Linked DNA regions of Homo sapiens. The gene in region 3 interacts genetically with the main gene of each other region. Each region holds a gene or a part of one and is shown on either strand. Other genes may lie near its edges.

Region 1 (8,080 bases), on a different chromosome or scaffold from region 3:
GCTGTAAGTAGGGAAAGCACAGGATATGTGTGTACACCAGGAAATGTCATCTGATTTCACATGAAGGGTGGGTTTGTGGTGGGAGTAGTGGGAAGAGGAGTTAGAATAAGTTGTCTATATTGTGGAAGAATTCCTTGAATGTCATGCTAGAGTTTTAACTTTATTGTAGGCGATGGGAACACATTAAGGTTCTTGATCAAGGGAATGATATATTCACAGCCAGTAGTTTGGGGTTAATTCCAGGAGGGTGGCTAGCAATGTGGAATCATGTCATTTCTGGGTTGTTGGTGGCCTGGAGATGCAATATATCTTAATAGTCATATATCTTAGCACTGAATAAATGGCTTTTGAAACCTTAAATAAGTGATTCTCAACCTTACTTTGGGTTAGGAATTACCTGGGGAGCTTTACAAAATAACAAAGATGTGGGCCCAACCCAAGGGATTCTCATTCCATTGTTTTGGGGTAAAGCCTGCACCTTGGGATTTTTTTCAAGTGCCCTAGGTATTACGATATGAGGCCAGGGTTGAGAACCATTGATTTAAGGTTAATAATAACTTCATTCCTTTTATCAGACTTTTTTAGAGTGAGAGATTCCTGGTACTTGTCATCATAGTAGGAATAGCTGTAGTATTTTATGCTATAGGATTGAACTGATGCTAGATGAATTAATTTTGTTGGTAAGTTTTACACAAAAACAAAAATGTAAGTGAATATTGTTGGCAAGTGACTATTGATCAGGAGAAGTGTTTAAATGTTTCTTGGCAGTTTTGTATTACACTTACAGTCTAGTTTACTGAGATCTTATAAATAACCCCAAAGCAAACTCTTTTATTTTTTTTGAGACAGAGTCTCGCTCTGTTGCCCAGACTGGTGTGCAGTGGCGTGATCTCAGCTCACTGGAAGCTCCGCCTCCTGGGTTCACGCCATTCTTCTGCCTTAGCCTCCCAAGTAGCTGGGACTACAGGTGCCCGCCACCACACCTGGCTAATTTTTTGTATTTTTAGTAGAGATGGGGTTTCACCGTGTTAGCCAGGATGGTCTCGATCTCCTGACCTCGTGATCTGCCCGCCTCAGCCTCCTCCCAAAGTGCTGGGATTACAGGCGTGAGCCACCGCGCCCAGCTGCAAACTCTTGATAGAAACCACCTATGCCTTTTTTTTCCCCACCTTCCGCTTCCCCAAATCAACGCCTGGCCAATGTCAGGACTATAAAATGTACTTTAGAATTGTCCTTTTCTTTCCTTGCTCTATTAGCAGTTTATAATGCATAACTTATGCTTTTTTCTTCAGTATGATTGTATATATATTCTTCAGTTGTAATACAAAATGTAATTCAAAGTTGAATGCTACATAACTACACTATCATAGTAATTCTGAATGTTAAGTTTTTATCTAGAAATGTCTAGAGCCAGAAACTCTGCCACAAATCATAAAAATTGTTTTCCACCTATTCTATTCTCATCACTGCCTTTTAAAAGTAAAAAACAAGCTGGGCACGGTGGCTCACGCCTGTAATCCCAGCACTTTGGGAGGCTGAGGCAGGTGGATCACCTGAGGTCAGGAATTCGAGACCAGCCTGGCCAACATGGTGAAACCCTGTCTGCGCTAAAAATAGAAAAATCAACCGGGTGTGGTGGCAGGTGCCTGTAATCCCAGCTACTTGGGAGGCTGAGGCAGGAGAATGGCTTGAACCCGGGAGGCGGAGGTTGCAGTGAGCCAAGATCGCGCCACTACACTCCAGCCTGGGTGACAGGGCAGGACTCCATCTCTAAATAAATAAATAAATAAATAAAACAATTACTCTTGAATTAGTTTCACTGACATGCTTAGTAGAATTTGAACAGTATGGTCTTCTTTCTTAAAAAAATATGTGTTTGAAATAAACTAGAATTTATTCTAGATAAGTTTATAAATATTTTATATTTATGGGTTATAAATCACTGTGGGTAATATCACTCAGTGATTGATATTTTAAATAAACCATAAAGTACTGAAAAGCCCATGAGACTGAGTCCAGAGGAGGGGGTCCTACCATTCCCAGGCTCTGTGGCTCCCAGGAGGGAAACGTGGTTTCCTCCTCACTCAAAAGAAGGGAGTTAATGAAATAAGATTTCTTCAAGCTTTAACTTTCTGTAACAGGATTAGCAAAGAACATTACCTGACTGGAAAAAAAAAAGATGATATATTTTTAAAATTCCTTATTTCTCTCATAACTAAAAACCCCACTTAAAATGTTATTTTTGGCTGGGCATGGTGGCTTACGCTTGTAATCCCAGAACTTTGGGAGGCTGAGGTGAGCGGATCATTGAGGTCAGGAGTTCAAGACCAGCCTGGCCAACATGGTGAAACCCCATCTCTACTAAAAATACAAAAATTAGCCAGGTGTGGTGGCAGACACCTGTAATCCCAGCTACTCAGGAGGCTGAGACACGAGAATCGCTTGAGCCCATGAGACAGAGGTTGCTTGAACCCAGGAGACAGAGGTTGCAGTAAGCCGAGATCATGCCACTGCACTCCAGCCTGGGTAACAGAGCAAGACTCTGTCTCAAGAAAAGAAAAAAGTTATTTTTTGGCCAGTTGTGATGGCTCATGCCTGTAATCCCAGTGCTTTGGGAGGCTGAGGTGGGCAGATTGCTTGAGCTCAGGAGTTCGAGACCAGCCTGAGCAACATAGTGAAACCCCCATCTCTACCAAAAATGCAAAAAATTAGCTGGGTATGGTGGCACACCTGTGGTCCCAGCTACTTGGGTGGCTGAGGTGGGAGGTTTGTTTAAGTCTGGGAGGCAGAGATTGCAGTGAACCAAGATCGCCCCACTGCACTCCAGCCTGGGTGACAGCATGAGACTGTGTCTCTAAATAAATAAATAAAATGTCATTTTTATTCATCATCCTCTCTGCTTATTGCCTAGTGTCTGATCACAAACCACAAGATAGTTCTTTTTTTTAAGAGACAGGATTTCTCTCTTTCACCCAGGTGGGAGTGCAGAGGTGCAGTCATGGCTCACTTCAGCCTCAAATTCCTGAGCTCAAGTGATCCTCCCACCTCAGCCTCCCAAGTAGATTGGGACCACCCGATCATACTACACACAGGTAATTTTTTTTTTTTTTTGTAGAGATGGGTTCTCGCTATGGTGCTTAGACTGGCCATATACCCCTGGCCTTCAGGTACCCTTCCACCTCAGCCTCCCTTCCAGAGTGCTGGGATTACAGGTGTGTGCCACTGCACGTAGCCAACATAATTCTTTTATATTGGTTTGAGGGTCATTCCTATGCTCCTCTTTTGAAAATAGCCAATGTGGCTAAAATAGAGTGCATAAATTAAGAGTGTTATAACTTAACTGACTTTTAAAGCCATTACTATTGACCTTTGAGACCTGGCTTTTTTCTTTGGTCCCATCAATCACTTCTGTACCACCTCCCCCAGTATAGAAGGACAAAAGGTTAGACAGATGCAGATACAGCTTGTATTACTGGGAATTATAGTGGTAAGAAGAAGGAGGTGGGGAAGAATAAAGGAACTACCATGTTTTTAGTTCTTATATTTCATAGTGATTATAACTAATATAATTAGAAGATTAAAAAATATTAATACCTTTCTATATTTAGGTCATACTACTAGATATTACACTGGAACTTCAGAAGCAAATTATGTCTGAATTGGAAATTCTTTATAAGGTAATTTTTTCATAATTTTTATTTGTAAAGCATGCCTATGGTATTGACTTGCAGGTTTATAACTACTTTTGTCTTATTTTTGTTACAGTGCGATTCATCATATATCATTGGATTTTATGGAGCATTTTTTGTAGAAAACAGGATTTCAATATGTACAGAATTCATGGATGGTGAGTTTTCCCTTTTATAATACTTTTAAAATGATTTTTAGAGTATATAGTGCTTTAAAACCTGGTTTTGATATAGATATCAAATAGAATTAAAGATAATAAAATATGCTAATAATTACCTCATTTATACTCTAAGATTATTTCAGTGTTAGGGGTTCCTGGGGTTAAATATTTATAGCCGAACTGTAATTTTAAGAATTGAACTTCACTTTTATTGAAAATTTAAATAGAACAGATTAAATGCTAGTCTAATTGGTGGTTTGATATTTGATTCTTTTGCACAATCTGTCTTTACTTGCAAAACAGATGTTCTGTTCTTTTAATGTTTCAATAGCCAAAACAGATTTTCTTTTAAAGAAATCTATTAACCCAATGTCCTGTGTCTTTCAGAAAGAAATCGGTTCTTAATTGCAAGATAAGAAATTGTTTTTCAACACAGCTGTTTAGCCAAGATGTGTTTAATTTTCTTTGGACTTTAGCCCTTTCCTTCCCTCTCTATTTTTTTATTCATTTCTATTTTGGTAGTTCTTTCTTGACCTGAATATTACGGCAAAATACAGATTTCTAGGGACATATCAGTGAAATGATGTCATCATTATTATTATTTACCAATTTTAAATCTAAGCAGTCTTTAAATTTTACATATTCAGTTTTCCATAGTCTAGTCCATTAAAACACAACTTAAGAAAATATTGTTAGTTCCTTGTGGAGATTCTCAGTACATTACTAAAGCAATTAGTTTGTGCCCTGCAAAACTTTAATGAGCCAACATTGGTACCTTGATACTGTCATAAGGTGTACAACATGCTCTAAATTAGTTATAGTAGAATGTCAAAAATTAAAAATCTTACAGCCATATAGGTAAGTATGGTAACTGTGGAGACTGACCAGAAAAAGTGGATTCATTGAGCCAGTACATGTTACTGTGTTGTAACTTTTATCATTCTTTCTTTGAAGTCTTCAATTTTTCAGTTCTACTCAAACATTTTTGTTGAAACAGGGCACGGTGGTTCACGCATGTAATCCCAGCACTTTGGGAGACTAAGGTGGGAAGATTGCTTGAGCCCAGGAGTTTGAGACCAGCATAAGCAATATAGTGAGATCTCATCTTTACAAAAAAATTTTTAAAAATATGGCCGGGCACGGTGGCTTACTCCTGTAATCCTAGCACTTTGGGAGGCCGAGGCAAGCGGAGTTTGAGACCAGCCTAACCAACATGGCGAAAACCCGTCTCTATAGAAAATACAAAAATTAGCCAGGTGTGGTAGCGCATACCTGTAGTCTCAGCTACTTGGGAGGCTGAGACTGAGAATTGCTTGAACCTGGGAGGTGGAGGTTGCAGTGAACCAAGATCGCGCCACTGCACTCCACCCTGGGTGACAAAGTGAGACTCTGTCTTAAAAAAAATAAAAAAAGGAAAATTAGCTAAGCATGGTGGTACGGGCCTGTAGTCTCAGTTACTCTGGGGGCTGAGGTGGGAGGATTGCTTGAGCCCAGGAGATTAAGCCTGTAGTGAGCTGTGATCGTGCCACTGCACTCCAGTCTAGGCAACAGAGTGAGACCCTGTATCAAAAAACAAATAAATTAAAATTTTTTATTGAAATATAACTCAGATACCATAAAATTCACCCTTTAAAAGTGTACAATTCCATGGTTTTTGATATACTCACAAGGTTGTGTAGTCATCACCACTGTATAATTCCAAAACACTTTTTACCACCCCCAGAAAGAGACTTCCTACCTATTAGTACTCACTCTCTACTTTCTCTTTCCTCAAGTCCTTGGCAACCACTGATTTATCTTCTGTCTCTATGGATTTACCTATTCTGGACATTCCATATAAATGGAATCTGATAATATATGGCCTTTGTGTCTGGCTTCCTTTACTTAGTATAATGTTTTCAGTGTTCATCCATACTATTGCATATATGAGAACTTCATTCCTTTTTATTGCTGAATAACATTTCGTTGTATGGCTATACTACATTTTGTTTATTCTTTCATTAGTTGATGGACATTTGGGATAGTTCTACTTTATGCATAATTATGAATAATGCTACTCTATATATTTGTGTACAAGTTTTTGTGTGGACATACGTTTTCAGTTCTTTTTTTTTTTTTGAAACAGAGTCTCGCTCTGTCGCCTAGGCTGGAGTGCAGTGGGGTGATCTCGGCTCACTGCAACCTCCACTGCAACCTCCACCTCCTGGGTTCAAGCGATTCTCCTGCCTCAGCCTCCCGAGTAGCTGGGACTACAGGCGCGTGCCACCATGCCCAGCTAAGTTTTGTATTTTCAGTAGAGACAGAGTTTCACTGTGTTAGGATGGTCTCGATCTCCTGACCTCGTGATCTCCCCGCCTTGGCCTCCCGAGGTGCTGGGATTACAGGTGTGAGCCACTGCACCCGGTCAGTGTTTTCAGTTCTTTTGGGTATATACCTAGGAGTAAAGTTGCTAGGTCATATGGTAGCTTTATGTTTAACTTTTTAATAAACTACCAAACTTTTCCAATCTGTTTTACACCACTTTGCATTCATACCAGCACTGTATAAGGTTCCATTTTCTTCATATTTTTGCCAATACTTGTCATTTTGTGTCTTTTTAAAATTGTGGGCTTGTAGTGTGACATGGTATCCCATTTTGGTTTTGATTTAGGTTTCTCTAATGACTAATGATGTTGAGCATCTTTTCATGTGCTTATTGGCCATTTGTATACCTTCTTTTGAGAAATATGTTTTCAAATCCTTTGTCTATTTTTTAAATGAGTTATTGGGCTTTTATTGTTGAGTTGTGAGAATTCTTTATGTATTCTAATACTTGGCTCTTATCAGATATGGGATTTCCAAATATTTTCACTTATTGTTTATCTTTTCACTTTCTTTTTTCTTTTCTTTTCCTTTTTTTGAGCTGCGGTCTCATTATGTTGCCCAGGCTAGTTTTGAACTCCTGGGCTCAAGTGATCCTCCCACCTCAGCCTCAAGTTTTATTGTTTTAGCTTTTATATTTAAGCCTTTGATTTATTTTTGAGTTAATTTTTATATATGGTATGAGATAGGGGTCCAAATTTATTCGTTTGCATGTAGATATACATTTGTTCCAGTACCGTTTGTTAAAGACTGTTTTTCCCATTGAATTTTCTTGTTATACTTGTTGAAAATTGACCATAACATATATTTCTGTACTTTCAGATCAATGCGTATACATCTCGCATTGATCTAGTTGTCTATCTTTGTACCAGTACCACACCATATTTGATTACTTGTACTTGAAAACTCTGGATTATTATAGTTTTTAAGTTTCAAATCGAGAAGTGTAAGTGCTCCAACTTTGTTCTTTTCAAGATTGTTTTGGCCATTTTGAATACCTAGCATTTTCATTTGAATTTTAGAATCAGCTTGGCAATTTCTCCAAAAAAATCCAGCTGGGATTTTGATAAGAATTGAATTGAATTTTTAGATCAACTTGGGGAATATTGCTGTCTTAACATTATTTAATCTTCCACTCCGTGAACACAGATGTCTTTCAACTTACTTAGGTCTTCTTTAATTGTTTTTCAATGATTTAAAAATAATTTTTAGGGTATAAGTGGTAACTATTTGTTAAATTTGCTTCTAAGTTTTTTTAATGCTGTTTTTCTTAATTTCATTTTTGGATTGTTCATTGCCAGTGTATAGAACTGTAATTGATTTTTGTATATTGATCTTGTATTCTGCAACCTTGCTGAACTTGTTTACTAATGTTAATAGCTTTTTGTGGATTCCTTAGGGTTCTCTATATACAAGATAATGCCATCTGCAAATAGAGGTAGTTTTAGTGCTTTCTTTTCAATTCTGAATGTCTTTTATTTCCTTTTCTTGCTTAATTACCCTGGCTAGAACCTTCAGTACAATGTTGAATAGACTGATGAGAGCAGACATCCTTCTCTTGTTCCTGACCTTAGAGGGAGAGCTTTCAGTCTTTCACCATTAAATATGATGTTAGCCATGGGTTTGGAATAGTTGTCCTTTGTCAGGTTGAGGAAATTCCTTTCTATTTCTAGTTTGTTGAGTTTTTTTTTTTTTTAATTATGAAAGGGTATTAAATTTTGTCAAATGCCTGTTTTATATCTATTGAAATAATCGTGCATATTTGGTCCTTTATTCTATTAATATATGGTATACTATATTAATTGATTTTTGCAAAATGAACCAGTCTTGCAGTGTTGGAATTATTCCACTTAGTCATGATGTGTAATT
Region 2 (7,852 bases), on a different chromosome or scaffold from region 3:
TAGAGCTGACTCCAGGCTTGGGGGCTGAGGATGGCCCCTCCTAGTGTGTGAGGCCAGTGAGGGGGAAAGCTGGGTGGGGAGAGTATGCAGAGGGCGCTATCCTGCCTACAGACACTGAGAGGGCCTGGACAGGAGATCTAGGTGTCCTCTGGGAGTCAGCAGGAAGCGTCACAATGCCAGGGAGGTGGCATGGGGAGCAGAGCCCATTGTCACCTTGCCGAGGAACCACAGGTCTCCACCCACCCACCATCCTCAGCACAGGAGAAAGAAGGCTGGCCCAGCCGACAGGTCTGCCACCCTGATGTTAGGGTAAGGCACACCCTGCATCTCTAGGACCCTGGGAACTTGGGATGCCCAGGGCTTCCCTCTATAAAGAATTATCTGGAGGGGCTCAAGGGTCCAAGGAGAAGTGGACCTAGTATTTCCAGAGTGGCCTGTTCTGGGCCTCAGACTGGACAAGAAAGAATGGAGGTCTGCCCCAGGCCCTGTTCTGCATCCTTACGTGCCTCAGTTCCCCCATCTGAGGATATCCCGGGGCTCCGGAAAGGGAGCCTCTGCAGTGGACCCAGCTGCTGTTCCCTGGATGTCCTCCCTCCCAGCCCTGGCTGGCCTCCCCCACCCGCCCCAGGCTCCTGGCCTCCCAGGAATGTGCTTCTCAGCCCCCAATCTGGGCGCCTGCCTTATCGGCCCCCAGTCGAAGGGGAGACAGACGCCCCTGTCGACAATGACATCCCCTCCTGTTAGCCCCAGCCTGACCCTGAGTTGAGGGCCGGCCAGCGCCTGCTAAGTGCCTGGAGGAGGAATATCTCCCCTTCCCCACGCTGACATGAAACCCGACCTCCTGCACCGGCTCCTTTGTGCCCACCGGGCGCCCGCCCAGGCGTCAGAGGCCCTGGGTCCCCGCCCTGCTGCACACTGTGGCTGCCAGGGTGGGATTTGCTCTGCCTGGCATGCTTCCAACATGACCTTAGCCTGCTTTGCTGGAAAACCAAGGTTGTCTGCGGGGGTCCGCTCACCCTGCTCCCAGCCCCCAACCCCTCAGTGTCTTGGTCCAACCCCTGCTGTATGAGGCCAGACCTTCTCCTCACATCCCTCCAGCAAATGCACTTCCCTCCAGCACTCCAGGCTCTCCCCGTCCCCTCCAGAGCAGGGAGGAAGGCTCCTGAACCCACTGTCATTAGGCACTGGTCTCACCCCACTCCCCAGGGAACCCCTCTCAGGGCCCTTGTGGGACCCTCACGCTCTTGGGATCCACCTGAGAGCCTTCTCAGCCAGTTCTCCCTCTTGGCCAGTTCCAGTCTCCTCGGGGGACCTCAGGGCCCTGTCCAGAGCATCCCTCGTTTTCCACACTTCCCTCCAAGGCTGCACTCCCCTTGTTTGTTAAGGCACATCCATTTGTGTGCCTTCCTCTCCCTCCTGCCTGCCATTATCCTGGTTACCAGGAACCTTGGCATGGCTGCAATTCACAGTCCCTTCCCGGGCCACGTCTCCCTGGATTCTCACTGCCTGGCTCCTGAAGCCCTTTCCTGGCTCAGCCTCCCTTGGCCTCCCCAGCTGGGGCTGCCTTCCCTCCCTGGCTACTGCAGGTCAGGCTACCCAGGCCTGGCCTCTTTTCTCCATCAACCCTTGCCCCTTGAGCATCTCACACACGCCCAAAGCTACAAATACCATTGATCTACTACTGGATGACGGCACCCACATTTAGACTGTCTGCTCCAACCCCTACCCCAACACCACACTCAGATTTTTCCAAGTGATGTCACACAGATGCCTCAAATTCGATGAGTCCAGAACAGGACCCTCTATGCCCCTCACCTTCTCCCCACGAGCCCTCCATCTCAACAAAGACCACCACCATCCAACCACTCTGCGGCTCAGGCCTCTGAATCCACTTGGACTCCCCTCTCAGCCCTGTCCCGTCTGTAGGCAAACCCATATCCCACCCCTCCTTGTCCTCCAGGTTCCACCTCCCAGCCCCGAAAGTAATCACTGTCCCTTAAGGATTCCCCCTGCTCAAGGATTCCTCTGGCAGTCCACTACCCTGACAGCAAACACAGAGGTTTGTTGTTTTTTTTTAAATTTTAGTAACATATACACAACATAAAATTTGTCCAAACTATTTTCAAGTGTTCAGTTCAGTGGTATTAAACATTCTTATGCAACCCTCCCCACCATCCATCTCCAGAACTTTTTCATTTTCCCAAACTGGAACTGCACTCATTAAACAATAACTCCCTGATCCCCTCTCATATAAGTGGAACCATACAGTATTTGTCTTTTTGTGACTGGTTTTTTTTTTTTTGAGACGGAGTCTCACTCTGTTGCCCAGGCTGGAGTGCAGTGGTGCAATCTCGGCTCACCACAACCTCCATCTCCCGGATTCAAGCAATTCTCCTGCCTCAGCCTCCCGAATAGCCAGGATTACAGGTGCCCGCCACCACGCCCAGCTAATTTTTGTATTTTTAGTAGAGACGAGGTTTCACCATGTTGGCCAGGCTGGTCTCGAACTCCTGACCTCAGGTGATCCACCCGCCTCGGCCTCCCAAAGTGCTGGGATTACAGGTGTGAGCCACTGCGCCCAGCCTTGTGACTGGTTTATGTTACTGGGTGTAATGTCTTCAAGGGTCATCCATGCTGCATCATGTATCCGAATTTCATTCCTTTAAGGTTGAATGGTATTGCATTGCATGTAGACAGCACATTTCGTCTGTCTCATCGGTGGGTGAACTGATGTGAACCATTGTGAATAATGGGGCCATGAACATGGGTGTATGAACATCTGTTCAAGTCCCTGCTTTTGATTCTTTTGAATGTGTACCCACAAGCAGCATTGCTGGATCATACGGTAATTCTATTTTTAATTTTTTGAGTCATGATCATATTGTTTTTCACAGCGGATGCACCATTTTATATTCCCACCAACGGTGCCCAAGGGTTCCAATTTCCCCATATCCTCGCCAACACTTATTTTGTTTTATTGTTTTGCTTTTCACAGTTACCATCCTGATGGACACAGGGATGCTTGCAAAGTGACAAACTTTAGAGGTATCCCAGGTCACCCCACCTGGCACTGCGGACGCCCACGTGGCCCCACCCCTCACTTGGCAATATTCTCATCAAGTGTCAGCACTAGCTTATTGTATTGACTGCCTCCTGGCTGGACTCTAAGAGACAGTGTCTTTTATTGCATGCTACATCCCCAACATCTAGAACAGTGTCAGGCAAACAGTTGTTTAATAAACGGTGGAAGGAAGGAAGGGAGGGAGGGAGGGAGGGAAGGAGGGAAGGAAGGTGGGTAGGTTGGTTTCTATTTTCCACCAAAATATTGAGGACCTCTCCTGCCTGTCCACTTGCTCTGGTGCGCCTCTCAACCCTCGCGCCCCACCTGGACTCAATCCCGCAGTCCTGCCTCTCCTTCCTTGGGCCCCCGGGGAAGAACCCCGACAGCGGCCGGCACATTTGAGTGGGGCCCTGGACGTTTGGGGAGGTTTGGACACATTCCCGAATGCCTCCCTGCTGTGGGTTAGGTGGGCCTGTCTTGGGCTGGCAGCGAGGACAACGTTGTGGCTAGGTCGTCAGTTAGTGAGCCAGCACGGTCTGAGCCGCCACACTCCGCGCCCCGCCCACGCGCCCCGCCCTTTCCAGTTTTGCCTCGCCTGCTCGGGTCTTCGCTCCTGTAACCCATACGATCTTAGCCCCGCCCCCGTGGTGTCGTGGGTCCACGCTACTGGTCCTCTCCTAGAAAGCCGCGAAATGACCAGTTCCTCATTGGCCACACGTTCTCCCGCGCCACCACCGCAGCCACAACAACCGCCACGTGCTCAACCTTGGCGCCTGCCCATTGGCCACCAGCCTCTACCCGCCCACTCTCCCTTTCCGCCCCTAATTTCCCTCTTCTTCCTTCCATTGGCTGTCGGGCTCAGGGGCTCTCTTTTCAGCCTGGGGCGCGCAGCGCCTCGGATGCGGATTGGCCGAAGGCGGGGCTGGGAGGCGGGTTAAAGAGCGCGTTGCTGGCTGGGCCACGCGTGCTTGAGAAGGTTCAATGGCGTGGCAGGGACTAGCGGCCGAGTTCCTGCAGGTGCCGGCGGTGACGCGGGCTTACACCGCAGCCTGTGTCCTCACCACCGCCGCGGTGGTAAGCGGCCGGGCGGACCGGACGTCGCCTTGGTTACAGCCTCTGGCGGGAGGGGTGAGGGTCGCCATGGTTACGGCGTGGCTCCCGGGCAGCTCTTGACTGGCCCCTGGTTCCACAGCAGCTGGAGCTCCTCAGCCCCTTTCAACTCTACTTCAACCCGCACCTTGTGTTCCGGAAGTTCCAGGTGAGGCCGCCCCGCGCCGCGCACCTGTGGGCCCGACCCACCCACCCCGCACCTGACCGCCCGTCCCCCGTAGGTCTGGAGGCTCGTCACCAACTTCCTCTTCTTCGGGCCCCTGGGATTCAGCTTCTTCTTCAACATGCTCTTCGTGTATCCTGCGCCCTGCGGACACGGGCTGGGTGGAGGGCAGGCCGGCCGGGCTGGGAGAGAGGCCGGGACGGGGAAACTGAGGCCCCGCCTGGTGGCACTTCCTATACCGACGCCGTAGGTTCCGCTACTGCCGCATGCTGGAAGAGGGCTCCTTCCGCGGCCGCACGGCCGACTTCGTCTTCATGTTTCTCTTCGGGGGCGTCCTTATGACCGTATCCTTCCCGCAGGCTCTGGAACCTCGGGCTAGGGCGCCTCGGCGTCCAGCCTGTGTTGGTCCTGGGGCCAACACAGCCATGCCAGAGAGGGACACAGTCGCTGTCTCCAGCTTAGTATGTGTTGAGGGCCCACTCTGTGCTCAGCTGCAGGGGTCAGGGCTAGATCTTCAGTGCTGTATGCAAAATACAAAGCCATGCACAAAAGAGCCAGGTGGGTTGTCAGGGCCACTAGCTGAGCCCTGAATGCGAGTAGCCGGGAGAAACTGGGGCAGGGACAGGCAGTGGTTGGGCCCTGGGATGAGGCTGTAGGTGTGCAGGGCAGATTTCGTGGGACCTGAAGCCCGTGGAGTGTGTCGCCTTTATTGGACTGGCTCATCTTGATGAGGGAATAGCACATAGGGGAGATGAGGGGAAGAATTCCAGGGTCTTGGGAAGTCAGAGGGGCCCTGGGCTTGGGCTGAGGCCTGCACCGGAGCACCTTGACTCTGGCCCAGCTGCTGGGACTCCTGGGCAGCCTGTTCTTCCTGGGCCAGGCCCTCATGGCCATGCTGGTGTACGTGTGGAGCCGCCGCAGCCCTCGGGTGAGGGTCAACTTCTTCGGCCTGCTCACTTTCCAGGCACCGTTCCTGCCTTGGGCGCTCATGGGCTTCTCGCTGCTGCTGGGCAACTCCATCCTCGTGGACCTGCTGGGTGAGCCTCCCGGTACATCTAGTCCGCCCCAGGCTGGCCACTCCCCTCAGGACACGCTGCTTATGCCCTGGGGCCCCTCTCCCATCCTTGCTGGAGTTCTCCTCACACCTGGCTCCATCCCCATCTTCCTGCCCTCCCAGCTGCTGTGCTCTTACAGCCCCTCAAGCCAGCCGGCCCACATAATTTGCATCGTCAGGACGGATCTACTGATGCTTGCACGGTCCTGATGGGAGTGAGGATGGGAGGGTCAGGGTTCCTGCCCCATGGCTCCCACTCCTCCACTATTCTCAGGCCCTCCCCTCCCTGGGTCCTGCCTGCTTCTGGGCCTTTTAAGCTTGTCCTTCACGGCCAACCCGGGGCTGGCACTCTGTGCAAGGCTTTGGGGCACTCATGCTGTGGGGCCTGCAGGGCCACCAGGCTGTGGATGGGGGCCTGGGGCAGGCTCTGCTGGTCTAGGACTCTGGGCTGTGGAGGGTGACCCCACAGTCCGTGGCTGTCTCACAGGGATTGCGGTGGGCCATATCTACTACTTCCTGGAGGACGTCTTCCCCAACCAGCCTGGAGGCAAGAGGCTCCTGCAGACCCCTGGCTTCCTGTGAGTGTTGAGAGCCCTCCCTCCCTCTCCCCACCCTCAGAAGGATCCCCACCGATGGGGACCTGTGCTGGCCTGTGCTCAACACGGGCCCCTCCCCACAGAAAGCTGCTCCTGGATGCCCCTGCAGAAGACCCCAATTACCTGCCCCTCCCTGAGGAACAGCCAGGACCCCATCTGCCACCCCCGCAGCAGTGACCCCCACCCAGGGCCAGGCCTAAGAGGCTTCTGGCAGCTTCCATCCTACCCATGACCCCTACTTGGGGCAGAAAAAACCCATCCTAAAGGCTGGGCCCATGCAAGGGCCCACCTGAATAAACAGAATGAGCTGCAGTCTCTTGGCCCACAGCACTGGCTTCCCCATCTCACCTGGCCACATCCTTCTATGCCTGCCCCGTCCTCACTCAGTGTGGCCTCTCAGCCCAACTGCAGGTGGTAGGATAGGGGTGCCCACAGAGGGCAAAGAAACTGCCCATGGTTGCCTGGCAGAGCTTTGAGCTCACAGGTTGCCAGGCAGAGCTTTTGAGCTCACAGGTGACAGGCTCAGGGTTCTCATCCTGGCCCCACCAGGGCCTTGGGCAAGTCCTGCCCACCATAGGCCTCTGCTACCTGCCAGTCAGCGGGGAAGTTCACCAGATTTCGGCTGCTGGGGCCAGGACAGGCGTCTCCTAGGTTGTGCCAAACCAGCCTACAGATGTTCCTGCCAGTGGTGCCTTCAGGCTGATGCCAATCTAGCCTCTCCTGTCTCTCATCAGCCACCCTGACAGGTGGGCGTATGCCTCATTTTTCATCTGGTGATGCCAAAGCCCCATGGATTCAGGTGCAGAAGAGGGCCAGGACTAGGTCTTCTGCCCTTTCTATGACCTCAGAGCCTAAGTTTTCACCTTAGCAGAGTTCTGAGACTGGGTGAGGCAGGGACTTCTGGAAGGTTCTGTTCCTGCCCTTTTTAGCTGAGGACGTGTGTGAGCCTTATCCGACCCCTGTGGCTCATTTTTCTCTTCTGACCTGGCAGCTTTCCTTGTTGTTCTAAGCCTGTCCATGTTGTGGTTTATTTCTGGATGCTCAGTGGCACGGGGCCTCCTCCAAAGACAGGTTGTCATTTTCATGGTAACAACACTGTTCTCTGTTGAGTCTGCCCTCCGTGTTGTAGCCAGACCTTGTGGAGATGGCTTTGCGGCGGTGTGAGCTGGCGGTCAGGAGTGAGGGCCCAGCCTTCCCGGCACCTCCCAGCCAGGTGGCCCTGCCCGACCTGTGGGGTGAGGCAGCCAAGGTTCCTTCCATCCCCCCAGTTGTGGAGACACAGGGCTGCCTCACCCTTTCATTGCCGAGGTTCCTACCTCATGGACAGAACAAACACCTCAGCAATGAAACCTGTTCATGTCTAAGAGCAGCTGGGCTGGGAATCTTCCCCTTTGTTCAAGGCCTTCCAGTAAGGCCCAGCTGTCCCCTTGCTGTGCATGGGGCTCTGGGGAGTTCCACTCTTTGATGGAGGGCAGAGGCCCTGAGTGCAAACTCCCTGGGAAGAGTCCCATGCTAACATGTGCTCAAAGGAGCCCTCCTCTCACATCTCAGCGACCAAGAACCCCAATCCCTAATCAGAGCTCTGCCTCTGCCCCACATGGGGCCCTACCCCACTTCCAGGGAGCACAGCAGCCTCTGACCCTAGCCCTGCCCTGGCAGCATGGGACCTGCCAACAGCTGAGGGTGGCAGCAGTCTGTGCTGGGATCTGTGCCCGGATCTGTGCCCATTCTCTTCAGTAAGGCTGGAGCTGCGAGCCAGTTTGCTGCCCTCCCAGATCCTGTGTCCATTCTGAAGAATGGGGACACCTCCCTATTACAGATGAGAACAGAGGGGACATGAACTCCTTGGAGGCAGGGCTGGGAAGGGA
Region 3 (8,080 bases):
TTTCCTGAGCGTGCATCTGAAGAGGAAGCCAACGAGGCTGACGCTATCATTATCTTTCCAATGTGCCAGGCTCTGTCTTAAGCACTTTGCGTCCATGAATTATTACTGTAATCATAACTGACGCTTCTAAAGCGCTTACTGTGTGTCAGGCATTCTTTGAGCACTTAAGACAGATTTCATTTAATTCTCCCACCCATTGCAAGATATTTGCAATTTTTTTTGTTTTTGTTATTTTACAGAAGAAACTGAGATGAAGTCACTTAACCAAGGTCACACAGTTAGTGACAGTTGGATTTCAAATCCACATAGCCGGGAGCTAGAACCCTCTACAGACAACACTGTCACCTTATGTAGGAAGGAAGGTGGCCAGTGGTTAAGTAAAGGTTAATAGAAAGCTTTAAATTTCGGCTCATCTAAGACTTGTGAGGTGCCTGGCAATTGATTCATGTTGATGTGGGAGAGGGGCGAGGTTCAGCTTTTAAAGACGGAAGCTGAAATGAGCTGCTTTCAGATTCAAGGGCATGTCAACGGATGCTAACATCTTATCCAAGACTTTGTAAGAATTCAGTCATATCCCCTAACTTGGACACTTCATAATGGGAACTTGGCAGTTTCAACTGCTTTTTGCCTTTATACAGTCCTAAAATATTGTTGGACTATAAATGCTGTGAGTGGTGGAGTCGAGGGCATGAACAGTTGGACAGCTCTGGTGTTAGAATTTACAGATCTTTTAAAGTAAGTTATTAAAATGAAGCTCCTGAAAATATCTCGTCCTTTTCTTAATCTGTGCATTCTTTCCTTTTATGCTGTCTTTAAAAAAAAAACAACAAAAAAAACACTAAATGTCATTAAGGACCCCTGAAATGCTCTTGAAATGTTATTGCAGGTGAAAACCTTGTATTGTAGGTGAAAACCTTGTCATTCTTTTAATGCCAGGTATTTATATAAGAACCATACTTTTTCATACTAGTTAATATAGTTCTTTAATTTATTCGAGGCAGCAGTTGGTCAGAAACTGATTAAAATAGTTTGCTGTAAGAAAGGAACTTTTTGTTAAATATTTTCTTTCTAAATTTTAAAATTCTGCTTATCTCTGCAGGGATATGTGTGGCTTTATTTCTCTGAGGAAACAGGAAAAGTTGGAATTTGCATGGATTAGAAACATTAGAATTTTAAGATCATCTAAGGCTTGCTAATTTAAGTTCTGGTTTGCCCATAACTGCCTCTATTCATAAACAGCTTTTGTTAATTTTGATCTTTAAAATTGTAATAAGTACTTTGCCTGGTAAGTAATGATACATCTAAAATGAGATCATTGTTTCTTAATAGTTCCTCTTGTTATGTGGCACTTGAAAACCAGGTTTTCTTATATTTCATTTTTTGCTGAAATTAATAAAGCAGTGCATTTTAATGCCTTGGGAATAGGCTAACTGCAAAGTATACTTAAATTTCTTTTTTTCTCGTGGGTGTTAAATTGGCAGAGAAACAGTTGAAGATGATCCATTGAGGATATGTAGATATCTAAGTTAAATGATGTTGGTAATAAATTCTGTTTTACAATTTTTTATTTAAAAAAATTAAATTTAATAATTTAAAATAGAAATGAGAGTCTCACTGTGTTGCCCAGGCTGTTCTCAAACTCCTGGTTTCAAGCAGTCCTCGCACCTCGTCCTCCCCAGGTGCTGGGGTTATAGTCATGAGCCACCGTGCCCGGCCTAAATTTTATTCTTTTCATAATGCCCCCAAAACCTTTTTTTTCCCTAAATAAGATGTAAGTATATCTGAAAGTAGAGGGAATATGACTTGTGACTTTGGCCAGATTTTTTTACGTGTTTAGAATTGATCTTTTAAGCTTGCGAGCAGTATAACCTAGTTGAGAAGTAGCTGAGTAATAGTACTAAAAAGCTAACTGAAAAGTGAAGTCTTAAGAAAAACAGCATGTTGGTTTAGATCTTAGTCACTAACCTTTGCAGTTCTTTTCTTCTCTGAACTCTGAGTATTTCTGTAAGCGAGGCATCACCTCTGCAACCCACCATGGATGCTTTTATCCAAGCTCTGCCTTGCTGATGATAAAACTTAAGGTTGTTAACTCCTTAGTATAACTGATGTTAGTTATTTAAATAACTACACAGTAAAACGGCATTTTGAGAGAAAATAAGCCAGCTGTTGATTTGGTCTGATGTATTGAAGACAAGTGAGATTTGGGGCAGTTTTACTTTGTAAATGACCTCCTTCAAGGAGCCATGGTGGCTAGCATTTTTTTTGCATAGCAGGTGGTTGTAACTTACTTCACATCTTGGTTTGCAAGAAGCATCTTTGCTTTGAAGAAGGCCATTGTCAAAGTGCAAGACCATGTCAGGCTCTGCAGAATTGCCTGACTTGTTTTAGTGATTTAAATATGATCTCTGCCCTGGCTCACAGAAAGTGCTTACAGATTTAATCCTCTGATACATAAGGGTTGTTCTGAAGGTAGGGAGTGTTCAGATATTCTGAAACTCTAAGATTGTTTAAATAACCCATATGTTCATCTTTTTGATGCAGTATAAAACGTTCATATTCTGGTGTTTAGCCATCCCTGGTCCTAAAGATAATAAAGGACAAACATAATGGTTTAAAAAGGGGAAGGTTTCTTAATATGCTAACCAAAAAAAAAAACAAAAGTAATCTTTCCTAATGAACACCTGTAATTATTTATTTTTTTATTTTATTTTGGAGACAGAGTCTCACTCTGTCACCCAGGCTGGAGTGCAGTGGTGGGATCCTGGCTCACTGCAACCTCTGCCTCCCGGGTTCAAGCGATTTTGGTGTCTCAGCCCCCTGAGTAGCTGGGATTAACAGGCATGCACCACCACGCTCGGCCAAGTTTTTGTATTTTTAGTAGAGATGAGGCCAGGCTGGTTTTGAACTCGTGACCTCAAGTGGTCTGCCCGCCTCAGACTCCCAAAGTGCTGGGATTACAGGCATGAGCCACCGTGCCCAGCCTGTAATTATTTGTTTACAGAGCAGGTAATTTTTACACTCACATCCAAGTTGTCAGTTTCTAATTCCCTCATTGATAAGAACTCTGATGTGAGCCCTTGCCCTTCCTTTCCCATCAGTATGTTGGTCATATGCCCACTTCCTCTCCTCCTAGGCAAGGTGGGAAAGCTCTGTTGGAGACAGATGATCTGCAGCTTGCAGGAGTCCTTTTTTAAACCACAGCATTGAAAAAGGATTACTCTCCTTGTGCCCGCAGTGCCCTCTTGCCTGTCAGTAGCAGGAGGCAGCAGTGAAATCTGACAGAATTGTGTGTGACGTTGTGCTTGCGGGGGATGTGACACACAGGAGCGCTCTGCATTCTGAGCCTAGGGTGTTCCTCCTCATAACTGGGCAAATGGACATGCAGTTGTAGCCCAGCAGTGGTCAGCTGTAGAAATTAGTGAGGTGATTTGATGTCTTTGAAAGCACAGTCCTATTACAACCTGTAACCTGTTGTGCAGAATCACAGTACCAGTCAGCCCACTTGACTAGGTGAGGATTCCTGATGGTGAAGCAGGGAAATTATTGATGTTATGTGGACTTCACCATTTAACTTAATTTACAATTGAGGCCATTAGTTGACCTGAGAGATTAAAATATGAAGGAGATAATATTCTGGGTGTCAGTCGCTTTGTAGATAAAGAACTGGAAAGTCATTCAAGACCAAGAAGGAAGGATTTCATTTCCATGGAGCTTATGGAATTCCAGGATAGAGTTTGATATTTTAAGATCATACCTCTGTATCCAAAGCATCAAGAACAGATGATGTGTTTGTGGATCTTGGTGATTTGTCTGAAATCTCCAGCTTCCCCACTTCACTGGGGTTTACTGTCATCCCTCTTCTAGAAGGTAGTGGTCATCACCGACAGTAAAGCTTACAGCAAATGAAAACTCAAAATGTAGTCTACTCAGTGGTATATTACCGAAATGTGTTCTTAGACTGTGAAAATTAAAGTTTTTAATGGATTGGCTTTACTCGAGGTGTAGAAAACTCAAGATGCTTTATTGAGAACAGTAGACAGTGTTTTGCAGCCACATCCTATCTGCCTTGAAAAAAATGGTGTCACTTTTATTTTTTTTACTAGAGACTGGGTCTCACTCTGTCCCCAGGCTGGAGACCTGAACTCCTGGGTTCAAGCGATTCTTCCTCCTCATCCTCTTGGCTAGCCGGATCTATAGGCACACACCACCACACCTGGCTAATTTTTTTTTCTTTTTCTTTTTTTCTTAAAGACAGGGGTGTTGCCTAGGCTGTTCTTTAACTCCTGGCCACAAGCAGTCCTCCCACCTCAGCCTCCCAAAGTGCTGGGATTACAAGCGTGAACCACAGCTCCCTGCCTTGGTGTCACTTCTCAATGCCTGAAGTGTAACCCCATCTGTTAGGAAAATCAGGATGGGAGAGGGCAGGGTGTGGAAACAATTGTGATAATCAGAACATGGAAGTCTTTCTGCTGGTGACTTTGCAGAGAAACTTAAAGGGTTCTTTTTTCTTTTCTTTTCTTTTTTTTTTTTTTTTTTTTTTTTGAGTCTTTCTTTGTCACCCAGGCTGGAGTGCAGTGGCAGGATCTCGGCCCACTGCTGCCTCCACCACCCAGGTTCAAGCGATTTCTCCTGCCTCAGCCTCAGTTGTTGAGTAGCTGGGACTACAGGCATGTACCACCATGCCCTGCTAATTTTTGTATTTTTGGTAGAGATGGGGTTTTACCATGTTGGCCAGGCTGGTCTCAAACTCCTGACCTCAGCTGATCCACCCACCTTGGCCTCCCAAAGTGCTGGGATTACAGGCGTTAGACACCGCATCCGGCCCAAAGGATTCTTGATAACATTTTTGTGGTTTATACTTTTTGCAGAAAAGAACTCAGTCGTTTATGGGAATGCTTAATGTTGGAAGTATTTACTGTTTTTTGTTTTGGTTTGAGTCTTATTTTCCTAAATCTGTCAAATATCATGAGGCTATTGATTTCACTGAAATGAATATGATGTGGCATATTGTTAAAATTATCACCTACTTTTTAACAGGATTATTTTAAAACAGCAAAATCTTCGTTGGCTTATTTTTATACCACTTGTGCCTTTCTTAGGTTCTGAAACTTCATTAGAATTCAGCTAGGGCTTTTTTAGTATATGCTATTTCTTTAATATGTTTTTATTTAAACAATTAAGGGGCCTTTATGTGGCAAGGAAAATACTTTTTTATTCCTTATAAATAATCTCAAACTTGTCTTAAATTTCCTTCCATAGTTTCCATCTTTGCTTTGCTTTTTGCCAGCAGCTAACTTTCAAAAGTTAGTATTGCTTATGAGAAAGAGCTGGTGTTGTAAATAATCACCAATGCTATTTTATTTATTTATATTTTTTGAGACAGGATCTCACTCTGTGGCCCAGGCTGGAGTGCAGTGGCATGATCTCGGCTCAATGCAGCATCTGTCTCCCGGGCTCAAGTGATCCTCCCATCTTAGCCTCCCGAGTAGCTGGGACTACAGGCGCACGCCACCATGTCCAGCTATATTTTGTATTTTTGGTAGAGACTCAATTTCACCATGTTGCCCAGGCTAGTCTCTAACTCCTGAGCTCAAGTGATCCTCCCACCTCGGCCTCCCAAAGTGCTGGGATTATAGGCCCAAGCCACCACATCTGGCTGCTATTCTTTTATAATTCAAATTTTTACCAGTTTGTTTTCAATAAAAATGTGTGGAAGTTTTTATTATTGCTCGTGTCAGTGATTTGCCAGAAAAATAGATCAGATACATTTCTACAGAGCAACCTTCGCTTTTAACAGTAATAATACGTTTTCCTGAATCTCCCTTTCTAGCCAGATAAAGAAATATTAATACTTCTACTGAAAAGTCACATCCTTAGGTCTAAGTTGGTGTTGCTTTTTTGTTGTTGTTTGTTTGTTTGTTTTGAGACGGAGTTTGTTTGTTTGTTTGTTTGTTTTGAGACAAAGTCTTATTCTTGTTCCCCAGGCTGGAGTGTGATGATGCGATCTGGGCTCACTGCAACCTGCCCCGTGGGTTCCAGCGATTCTCCTGCCTCAGCCTCCCGAGTAGCTGGGATTACAGGTGCCTGCCACCACGCCTGGCTAATTTTTGTATTTTTAGTAGAGACGGGGTTTCACCATGTTGGCCAGGCTGGTCTCGAACTCCTTACCTCAGGTGATCCGCCCGCTTCGGACTCCTAAAGTGCTGGGATTACTGGCATGAGCCACCGTGCCTGGCCGAGACGGAGTTTCTTTCTTGTTGCCCAGGATGGAGTGCAGTGGCACAATCTCGGCTCACTGCAACTTCCACCTCCCAGGTTCAAGTGATTCTCGTGCCTCAGCCTCCTGTGTAGCTGGGGTTACAGGCGTGCACCACCATGCCCAGCAAATTTTTGTATTTTTAGTAGAGATGGGGTTTCACCATGTTGGCCAGGCTGGTCTCGAACTCCTAACCTCAGGTCATCCACCCATCTCGGCCTCCCAAAGTGTTGGGATTACAGGCATGAGCCACCGTGCCCAACCTTCTCCTTTGGTTTTGAAGTTCAATGTAGAACAGATTCTTAATTGGGAATTAAGAATGCACCACTAGATGTAGCATCGCGGCCTCGTGTCCTTAAGCTCTGTGACCTTGGACTAAGTCACTGTAAAATGGGAGATGACAGTGCCTGACTTCCTAGGATCGTTGACAGGATTGAATGGCAATATAAAGCCCTTAGTACAGTGCCTAGTGGATAAGTGCTCAGTAAATGTTAACTACAACGAGTAAATAATTCTGTTTGATGGACATTGAAAATAGTGAAGTGGGCCAGGCACGGTGGCGCACGCCTATAATCCCAGCTACTTGGGAGGCTGAGGCAGGAGAATCACTTGAACCCAGGAGGTGGAGGTTGCAGTGAGCCACGATCGCATCACTGCACTCCAGCCTGGCAACAGAGTGAGACTCCATCTCAAAAAAAGAAAGAAAAAAATAGTGAAGTGAATTTGTATGCTTTTGGCTGATATGGCAACTTTTTTTTTTTTTTTTTTTTTCTTGAGATGGAGTCTCACTCTGTCGCCCAGGCTGGAGTGCAGTTGCACGATCTCAGCTCACTGCAACCTCCACCTCCCGGGTTCAAGCGATTCTTCTGCCTCAGCCTCCGCAGTAACCAGCCACCACGCCCAGCCTGATATGACAACTTTTAAGAACTCTCCAGTGTTCACTTGGACTGCCAAGCCCCATTTGAAATCTCTGTTAGACAATTCAACGTGAAATTTAAGAGTAATTCTAGATTTTCATACTTTGAAAAATACTCCAGTAAAGCCTGGTAAGCAAGTGGCCCTATTGTTTTATAATTTTATAGTGCAGAAACAGGCTTTTTGCTCATCAAAAGTATATAGTCTGGGCTGGGCACGGTGGCTCACACCTGTAATCCTGGCACTTTGGGCGCCGAGGCAGTGGATCACCTGAGGTCGGGAGTTCGAGACCAGCCTGACCAATATGGAGAAACCCCATCTGTACTAAAAGTATAAAATTAGCTGGATGTGGTGGCGCATGCCTGTAATCCCAGGTACTCGGGAGGCTGAGGCAGGATAATTGCTTGAACCCGGGAGACGGAGGTTGCAGTGAGCCGAGATCGTGCCATTGCACTCCAGCCTGGGCAACAAGAGTGAAACTCCGTCTCTAAATAAATAAATATATAGTCTGGAATATATGTTTAATTCTAATGCCACCAGTCAACACTACTTAAAGACTTATCCAGATTTCAGTCATGCAACAAATTTTGAGCACCTGCTGTGTGCTGGCTATGGCTGGTGTACACTACAGAGCAGGACTGCTGCTGTGGGTTTACATTCTACCAGTGGGTCCAGATGAGCCGGCAGAAGCAAACTGGCAAGTATAAAACAAATACAAGCATGGTTGAGGGGGTGTGGTGGGTAGTGACCTGATGTTGAGAGAGCCTTTCAAAAAGCATGCAGCAAGCTTGTGAGGGGAGAGGAGATGGATGAGAGAAGCTTTTCTCCAGGGTGAAGTGTGGTATCTGAGCAGAGGCCTGAAGTCTGAGCAGTTGTATGATAACTGATGGAAGATGGTTTTGGCAGTTT
Region 4 (7,212 bases), about 55 Mb from region 3:
GCCGGGGCTTCTCATTGTTGATCATGAAGAACTTGAATGTCACATCTCTGGGCTTCCGATCCCTGAAGGAAATTAGTGCTGGGCGTATCTATATAAGTGCCAATAGGCAGCTCTGCTACCACCACTCTTTGAACTGGACCAAGGTGCTTCGGGGGCCTACGGAAGAGCGACTAGACATCAAGCATAATCGGCCGCGCAGAGACTGCGGTGAGGGAAAGGGTCTGCTAGGTGGTGAGAATAGGGAGTCAGGGAGGAGAGGGCTGAAAGGACTATTCTGCCCTAGACGTGGGAGTAGGGTTGAGGGATGGAACCAAGGAGAAGGGGGCTGTTAGGCTGGAAGCAGTAACGAGGAAGAATAATGAAGAGAGGGCTTGCTGGGAGTCCTCAGACTCCTCTCCTAACCCACCCCTTCCTTTCCAGTGGCAGAGGGCAAAGTGTGTGACCCACTGTGCTCCTCTGGGGGATGCTGGGGCCCAGGCCCTGGTCAGTGCTTGTCCTGTCGAAATTATAGCCGAGGAGGTGTCTGTGTGACCCACTGCAACTTTCTGAATGGGTACAGTAAGGGGAGCCAGTCAAGGATGGGTGGGGGTGGGGCCCTGCAATGGAACTGTTCAGGTGGCATACAATAAAAGTCTTTAGACAGCTTTCTGCATGTGCCTTGGTGGGATTGAGGTAGGAGACCTGTGGTTGTGAGATCGGAGCATGAAGGTCAGGACTTGGAAGTGACCCCCCCCTCCCTTTATTCCCCACTACAGGGAGCCTCGAGAATTTGCCCATGAGGCCGAATGCTTCTCCTGCCACCCGGAATGCCAACCCATGGAGGGCACTGCCACATGCAATGGCTCGGTATACTAGTAGCACCAGGATCTCCAAGGGAGACAGAGAAGGGGCAATACTTGGAGCATCTGGGGAATGATATGGCTAAGGATAGCACAGAGAGGCCAGATAATGCTAGGGCCTGCAGATAGAAGATCCTGAATGTCTGGGTTGGTCTTTGCTGGGAGGTATGGAATTGACCTTGGGATCTGATTCTTCCTGACCTTCTCTCTTCCACTCAGGGCTCTGATACTTGTGCTCAATGTGCCCATTTTCGAGATGGGCCCCACTGTGTGAGCAGCTGCCCCCATGGAGTCCTAGGTGCCAAGGGCCCAATCTACAAGTACCCAGATGTTCAGAATGAATGTCGGCCCTGCCATGAGAACTGCACCCAGGGGTCAGTGATGGGATAATAAGGAGAGGGGGTCAGGTGGAAGGGTAGGAGCACAGAACTAGAGTGAGGGAAGCAGAAAGAAGAGAGAGGCTGTGATTCAAGAATCACTCCCAGCTGGCCGGGCGCAGTGGCTCACACCTGTAATCCCAGCACTGTGGGAGGCCGAGGTGGGTGGATCACCTGAGGTCGGGAGTTCGAGACCAGCCTGACCAATATGGAGAAACCCTGTCTCTACCAAAAATTTAAAATTAGCCCGGCGTGGTGGCGCATGCCTGTAATCCCAGCTACGCGGGAGGCTGAGGCAGGAGAATTTCTTGAACCCAGGAGGCAGAGGTTGCGGTGAGCTGAGATTGCATCATTGTACTCCAGCCTGGGCAACAAGAGTGAAACTCTGTCTCAAAAAAAAAAAAAGAATCACTCCCAGCTGTGTAGCGAAGGATTGGAGAAAGGGAAAATCAGTAACAGCACAAAATTACACCACAGTTTTGGGAACCTGGAATAACCTCAGTTCAAGGGAGTTTCACAGAAGAGGGGCTTGGGGAGAGCTAGTGAGCTGGAGGTGGAGGCCATGTCTTGGGATCAGCTCTGGGCTCCAGGATGGGATGCCACGGTAAGTTCTGAAACAAGCTTTTATATGTTAGGCTGTTGAAATTGAGCCTCTGCTGTCCAAGCTCTCATTTAAGGTGGTGACTTTCTTCCCTAGGTGTAAAGGACCAGAGCTTCAAGACTGTTTAGGACAAACACTGGTGCTGATCGGGTATGATGGGGTTGGAGATTCTGGAAACTGGGGATATTTGGGAGTTGGGAGAGAGGTGGTTACCTGGAGAGAAGAGGGAGGCTGTCTTCATTCTGGCCTTTTATGTATGCAGTCCACTATCACTGGACACTTGGGACTCAAGAATGCAGGCTTCTGGACTTCCCTTCCTAAAATTAACTTTCAGTAGTCTAAGACTGGTCCAGATTTAGGTTGGTCCCTTCAGTGCTTAAGGATATATATGTGAATGTTAATTTCTTGCCCCAGGTCAGCATCATACCTTCAACACAAGTATAGTTGACATTTGTAAGGAAGATGCAAACCCAGGATAATGTTGGGTTTCTATATATCCCATAGCAAAACCCATCTGACAATGGCTTTGACAGTGATAGCAGGATTGGTAGTGATTTTCATGATGCTGGGCGGCACTTTTCTCTACTGGCGTGGGCGCCGGATTCAGAATAAAAGGGCTATGAGGCGATACTTGGAACGGGGTGAGGTGAGTACTTAGCTTACTTTTGTTTTTTCTTTTCTTTTTTTGCATGTCCTGGAAGTCTCTTTATAGCTTAATTTTGAGTGGTACCCTGTGCACCCAGGGGTCAGTGATGGGATAAATGTCACTCCCCTCCTCTTTCCCCAGAGATTTGATCCCTTTCTTCAAGGAAGTAGTGTGGTCCCCTAGAAGAACACTGGTCAGAGAAATGGGAGGCATGCATTCTAGTCCTGATTTTGCCATTAATTTGCCACATGACTTTGAAGAAGTTACTTATCTTCTCTGTGCCTCGGTTTATGCATCTATACAGAGGAAATAACATTTGTCCTTCCAGGATGGCTGTAAGGGTAAAGGGGGATGATGTATGTGAAAGTGCTTTGGAAAGCACAGAGCACTGTATAAAAGGTACTCAAGGTGGTAATAGTACTACCAACTCTCCCTAGCTGTCCCCTTCCCCACTTTGTGCTCCTCCATCAAAGGGAAAACCCAACCCCTTTGATTCCTGATCTCATGAGCACAAATAACTTCCTCAGTTCTCAGGGTCTGTACCTCAATATGCCTATAATCCATTCCAGGACTAACGGTGCTTCCTCTTCCTGCCCTTTCAGCTGTGCTGCTTTTGGCATTCACCTATGAGGAGCGGGTTGGAGTGGGACATGGGAATGGCCTTTCCTGAGTAACTCCTTCCCATTTGCTCCTCAGAGCATAGAGCCTCTGGACCCCAGTGAGAAGGCTAACAAAGTCTTGGCCAGAATCTTCAAAGAGACAGAGCTAAGGAAGCTTAAAGTGCTTGGCTCGGGTGTCTTTGGAACTGTGCACAAAGTGAGTGACCCATAGGAATTCTGGAGAGGTGGGGAAGGCATCTAGGGCAAAGGGGTGAAAGATTTTTGCATAGGATTGACCTAGGGAGAATGACCTTATGCCAACTCCTGCCCCAAACTTCCCAGGGAGTGTGGATCCCTGAGGGTGAATCAATCAAGATTCCAGTCTGCATTAAAGTCATTGAGGACAAGAGTGGACGGCAGAGTTTTCAAGCTGTGACAGATGTAAGTGAAGGAAATTCTGTATGCCGCTAGGAGAGAGGACAATATTAGATACAATCATGTAGAAGCAGGGTCCTGTGCTTCTCAGCAGCTACTATGTTAGCCAGAATGTTGGGGGTGGGGGGGCCTGGGCTGGCTGTGCACATGCTGAGTGTATGTGAACCTGTTGGTTTCCTAGATAATACCTTTTGTGTCTCTTAGCATATGCTGGCCATTGGCAGCCTGGACCATGCCCACATTGTAAGGCTGCTGGGACTATGCCCAGGGTCATCTCTGCAGCTTGTCACTCAATATTTGCCTCTGGGTTCTCTGCTGGATCATGTGAGACAACACCGGGGGGCACTGGGGCCACAGCTGCTGCTCAACTGGGGAGTACAAATTGCCAAGGTGAGAGAAGCCTGGAGGAATTCTGTGATAAGAACTGCTTGTCTGGGGGCCAGCCAGGAAAAAGTGAGAAGGTTGAAGTTCTGAGAGGTGAGGTCCCCAACCCCCGGGCTGCAGACTGGTACCAGTCCATGGCCTGTTAGGAACCAGGCCACAGAGCATGTGAGCGGCAGGCAAGCGAGTGAAGCTTCATCTGTATTTACAGTCAGTCCCCATCACTTGCATTACCGCCCGAGTTCCGCCTCCTGTCAGATCAGGGGCAGCATTAGATTCTCTTAGGAGCTTGACTTCTATTGTGAACTGTGCATGTGAAGGATCTAGGTTGTGCACTCCTTATGAGAATCTAACTAATGCCTGATGATCTGAGGTGGAAAAATTTCATCCCAAAACCAACCCTCCCCTTCCCCTGGAAAAACTGTCTTCCACAAAACCAGTCCCTGGTGCCAAAAAAGGTTGGGGACCACTGCTGAGAGGTACCTTCAAGATTTGGGGGAATTCCAGATCTCAGTGACTGATTCCCCCAACCTTAAGAATACTTTCTTCCCCTATACCTACAGGGAATGTACTACCTTGAGGAACATGGTATGGTGCATAGAAACCTGGCTGCCCGAAACGTGCTACTCAAGTCACCCAGTCAGGTTCAGGTGGCAGATTTTGGTGTGGCTGACCTGCTGCCTCCTGATGATAAGCAGCTGCTATACAGTGAGGCCAAGGTGAGGAGACACAAAGGGTAAGGAGGCGGGGGTGGAGTGAAGCATGGGGATAGGGAGCAGCCAGTGGTCTCTTCCAGAGGCAAGCAGATGCTTCATGGTAAGTTCAAGGAGAGAAGGCTGCAGATGCCAGATATTTTAGTTCAGAGGGCAACAAATAAAATAATGATCAAGAACTTGGGACTGGCCGGGCGCGGTGGCTCACGCCTGTAATCCCAACACTTCGGGAGGCCAAGGCGGGTGGATCACAAGGTCAGGAGATCAAGACCATCCTGGCTAGCACGGTGAAACCCCGTCTCTACTAAATATACAAAAAAAAAAAAAATTAGCCAGGCGTGGCGGCATGCATCTGTACTCCCAGCTACTCGGGAGGCTGAGGCAGGAGAATGGCGTGAACCCAGGAGGCGGAGCTTGCAGTGGGCCGAGATCGCACCACTGCACTCCAGTCTGGGCGACAGAGCGAGACTCCGTCTCAAAAAAAAAAAAAAAAGAATTTGGGACTTGGAAATCCTAAGAAAATTTGTGGAAATAAACTTGTGATACCTCTATCTTTAATCCGCAGACTCCAATTAAGTGGATGGCCCTTGAGAGTATCCACTTTGGGAAATACACACACCAGAGTGATGTCTGGAGCTATGGTCAGTGCATCTGGATGCCCTCTCTACCATCACTGGCCCCAGTTTCAAATTTACCTTTTGAGACCCCCTCTTAGAATCTCTAAGCACTTCAGATTTTTGTGTTAGATCAGGTTCTGCCTTCCCTTCACTTCATGCCCATGTCTACTATTTTGCCAGTGACTAGTCCATGTCTTCCTGCAACAGGTGTGACAGTTTGGGAGTTGATGACCTTCGGGGCAGAGCCCTATGCAGGGCTACGATTGGCTGAAGTACCAGACCTGCTAGAGAAGGGGGAGCGGTTGGCACAGCCCCAGATCTGCACAATTGATGTCTACATGGTGATGGTCAAGTGTGAGTTACCTGCTGAGCCCAACCATTTTCTCTTTTTTTCTTTTTTTTTCTTTTTTTTTTTTTTTTGAGACAGAGTCTCACAATTGTCACCCAGGCTGGAGTGCAATGGTGCAATCAATCTTGGCTCACTACAACCTCCGCCTCTCGGGTTCAAGAGATTCTCCTGCTTCAGCCTCCGGAGTAGCTGGGATTACAGGCGCCCGCCACACCTGGATAACTGTTACACTTTTAGTAGAGATGGGGTTTCACCATGTTGGCCAGGCTGGTCTCAAACTCCTGACCTCAGGTGATCCGCCTGCCTCAGCTTCCCAAAGTGCTGGGATTACAGGTGTGAGCCATCATGCTCGGCCTGACTGCAGCCATTTTCTGACTTCCCTCTGTACTCCTCTTATGGCTCTATTCCTTTTTTTTTTATGGAGTCTCGCTCTGTTGCCCATACTGGAGTGCAGTAGCGTGACCTTGGCTCACCGTGACCTCCACGTTCCAGGTTTAAGTTCTTCTGTCTCAGCCTCCCAGATAGCTGGGACTTTAGGCGTGCACCACCACGCCCAGCTAATTTTTTTTTGTCTTTTTAGTAGAGATGGGGTTTCACTATGTTGGCCAGGCTGGTCTCAAAGTCCCGACCTCAGGTGATCCACCCGCCTTGGCCTCCCAAAGTGCTGGGATTATAGGTGTGAGCCACCGCGCCCGGCCATGGAATGTATTCTCTTTTATGTCTCTACCTCCTACATCTTATCTCCAGGTTGGATGATTGATGAGAACATTCGCCCAACCTTTAAAGAACTAGCCAATGAGTTCACCAGGATGGCCCGAGACCCACCACGGTATCTGGTCATAAAGGTGAGTAGGGAGTAGGAGGTGCTAAGGAAATTTAGAAAAAGGAGGAGTTGGCTGGAACCAGGATTCCCCCTAACAATCACCTATCGATATAGAGAGAGAGTGGGCCTGGAATAGCCCCTGGGCCAGAGCCCCATGGTCTGACAAACAAGAAGCTAGAGGAAGTAGAGCTGGAGCCAGAACTAGACCTAGACCTAGACTTGGAAGCAGAGGAGGACAACCTGGCAACCACCACACTGGGCTCCGCCCTCAGCCTACCAGTTGGAACACTTAATCGGCCACGTGGGGTAAGACAACTTCTAATTACCCAACACTTTGCACCCTGAGCCCTCACAAACCCTACAGATACCCAGATTAACTACTCAAAGGCCCCCATGGTGAATGTAGATTTCTCCCTTCATCTTAACCTTTTCCTTATTTTTTCATCCTAGAGCCAGAGCCTTTTAAGTCCATCATCTGGATACATGCCCATGAACCAGGGTAATCTTGGGGAGTCTTGCCAGGTAAGTTCTGTTGCTGAGAGGCTGGGTTTTAGGATCAGATTGATACGAGTAGTATGGAAGACATTAGAAACCTCTGAGGTTTAATCAGTGTCCTGCAAAAAAGAAGGCAGTGAGGGCCGGGCGAGTTGGCTCACACCTGTAATCCCAGCACTTTGGGAGGCCAGAGAGAGTGGATCACCTGAGGTTAGGAGTTTGAGACCAGCCTGGCCAACATGGTGAAACCCCGTCTCTACCCAAAATACAAAAATTAGCTGGGTGTGGTGGTGCACACCTGTAATCACAGCTACTCAGGAGGCTGAGACAGGAGAAT

The links.
Region 1: changes in PPP1CC (region 3) and MAP2K5 together harm fitness more than expected from each alone (negative genetic interaction), as found in Homo sapiens cells (one large-scale study listed by BioGRID).
Region 2: of PPP1CC (region 3) and SMARCB1, changing one enhances a phenotype caused by changing the other (phenotypic enhancement), as found in Homo sapiens cells (one study listed by BioGRID).
Region 4: changes in PPP1CC (region 3) and ERBB3 together harm fitness more than expected from each alone (negative genetic interaction), as found in Homo sapiens cells (one large-scale study listed by BioGRID).

The regions. Positions count from the first base shown.
Region 1 is NC_000015.10:67,642,623-67,650,702, forward strand, and holds part of MAP2K5 (dual specificity mitogen-activated protein kinase kinase 5), read left to right. Parts: intron 1-3,608; coding exon 3,609-3,677; intron 3,678-3,765; coding exon 3,766-3,847; intron 3,848-8,080. UniProt on the Homo sapiens protein: Acts as a scaffold for the formation of a ternary MAP3K2/MAP3K3-MAP3K5-MAPK7 signaling complex.
Region 2 is NC_000022.11:23,835,178-23,843,029, reverse strand, and holds the end of SMARCB1 (SWI/SNF-related matrix-associated actin-dependent regulator of chromatin subfamily B member 1), read right to left. Parts: 3' UTR 6,162-7,852; coding exon of another isoform or gene 6,068-6,161; 3' UTR 5,971-6,067; coding exon of another isoform or gene 5,876-5,970; 3' UTR 5,372-5,875; coding exon of another isoform or gene 5,176-5,371; 3' UTR 5,021-5,175; downstream 1-5,020. Other genes in the region: DERL3 (derlin-3), read left to right, coding at 4,043-4,135, 4,254-4,319, 4,393-4,466, 4,585-4,892, 5,299-5,371, 5,876-5,966.
Region 3 is NC_000012.12:110,733,940-110,742,019, reverse strand, and holds part of PPP1CC (serine/threonine-protein phosphatase PP1-gamma catalytic subunit), read left to right. Parts: intron 1-8,080. UniProt on the Homo sapiens protein: Protein phosphatase that associates with over 200 regulatory proteins to form highly specific holoenzymes which dephosphorylate hundreds of biological targets.
Region 4 is NC_000012.12:56,093,344-56,100,555, forward strand, and holds part of ERBB3 (receptor tyrosine-protein kinase erbB-3 isoform 1 precursor), read left to right. Parts: intron 1-1; coding exon 2-207; intron 208-420; coding exon 421-553; intron 554-755; coding exon 756-846; intron 847-1,058; coding exon 1,059-1,213; intron 1,214-1,913; coding exon 1,914-1,967; intron 1,968-2,321; coding exon 2,322-2,463; intron 2,464-3,159; coding exon 3,160-3,279; intron 3,280-3,404; coding exon 3,405-3,503; intron 3,504-3,701; coding exon 3,702-3,887; intron 3,888-4,441; coding exon 4,442-4,597; intron 4,598-5,156; coding exon 5,157-5,232; intron 5,233-5,415; coding exon 5,416-5,562; intron 5,563-6,304; coding exon 6,305-6,402; intron 6,403-6,494; coding exon 6,495-6,686; intron 6,687-6,830; coding exon 6,831-6,902; intron 6,903-7,212. UniProt on the Homo sapiens protein: Tyrosine-protein kinase that plays an essential role as cell surface receptor for neuregulins.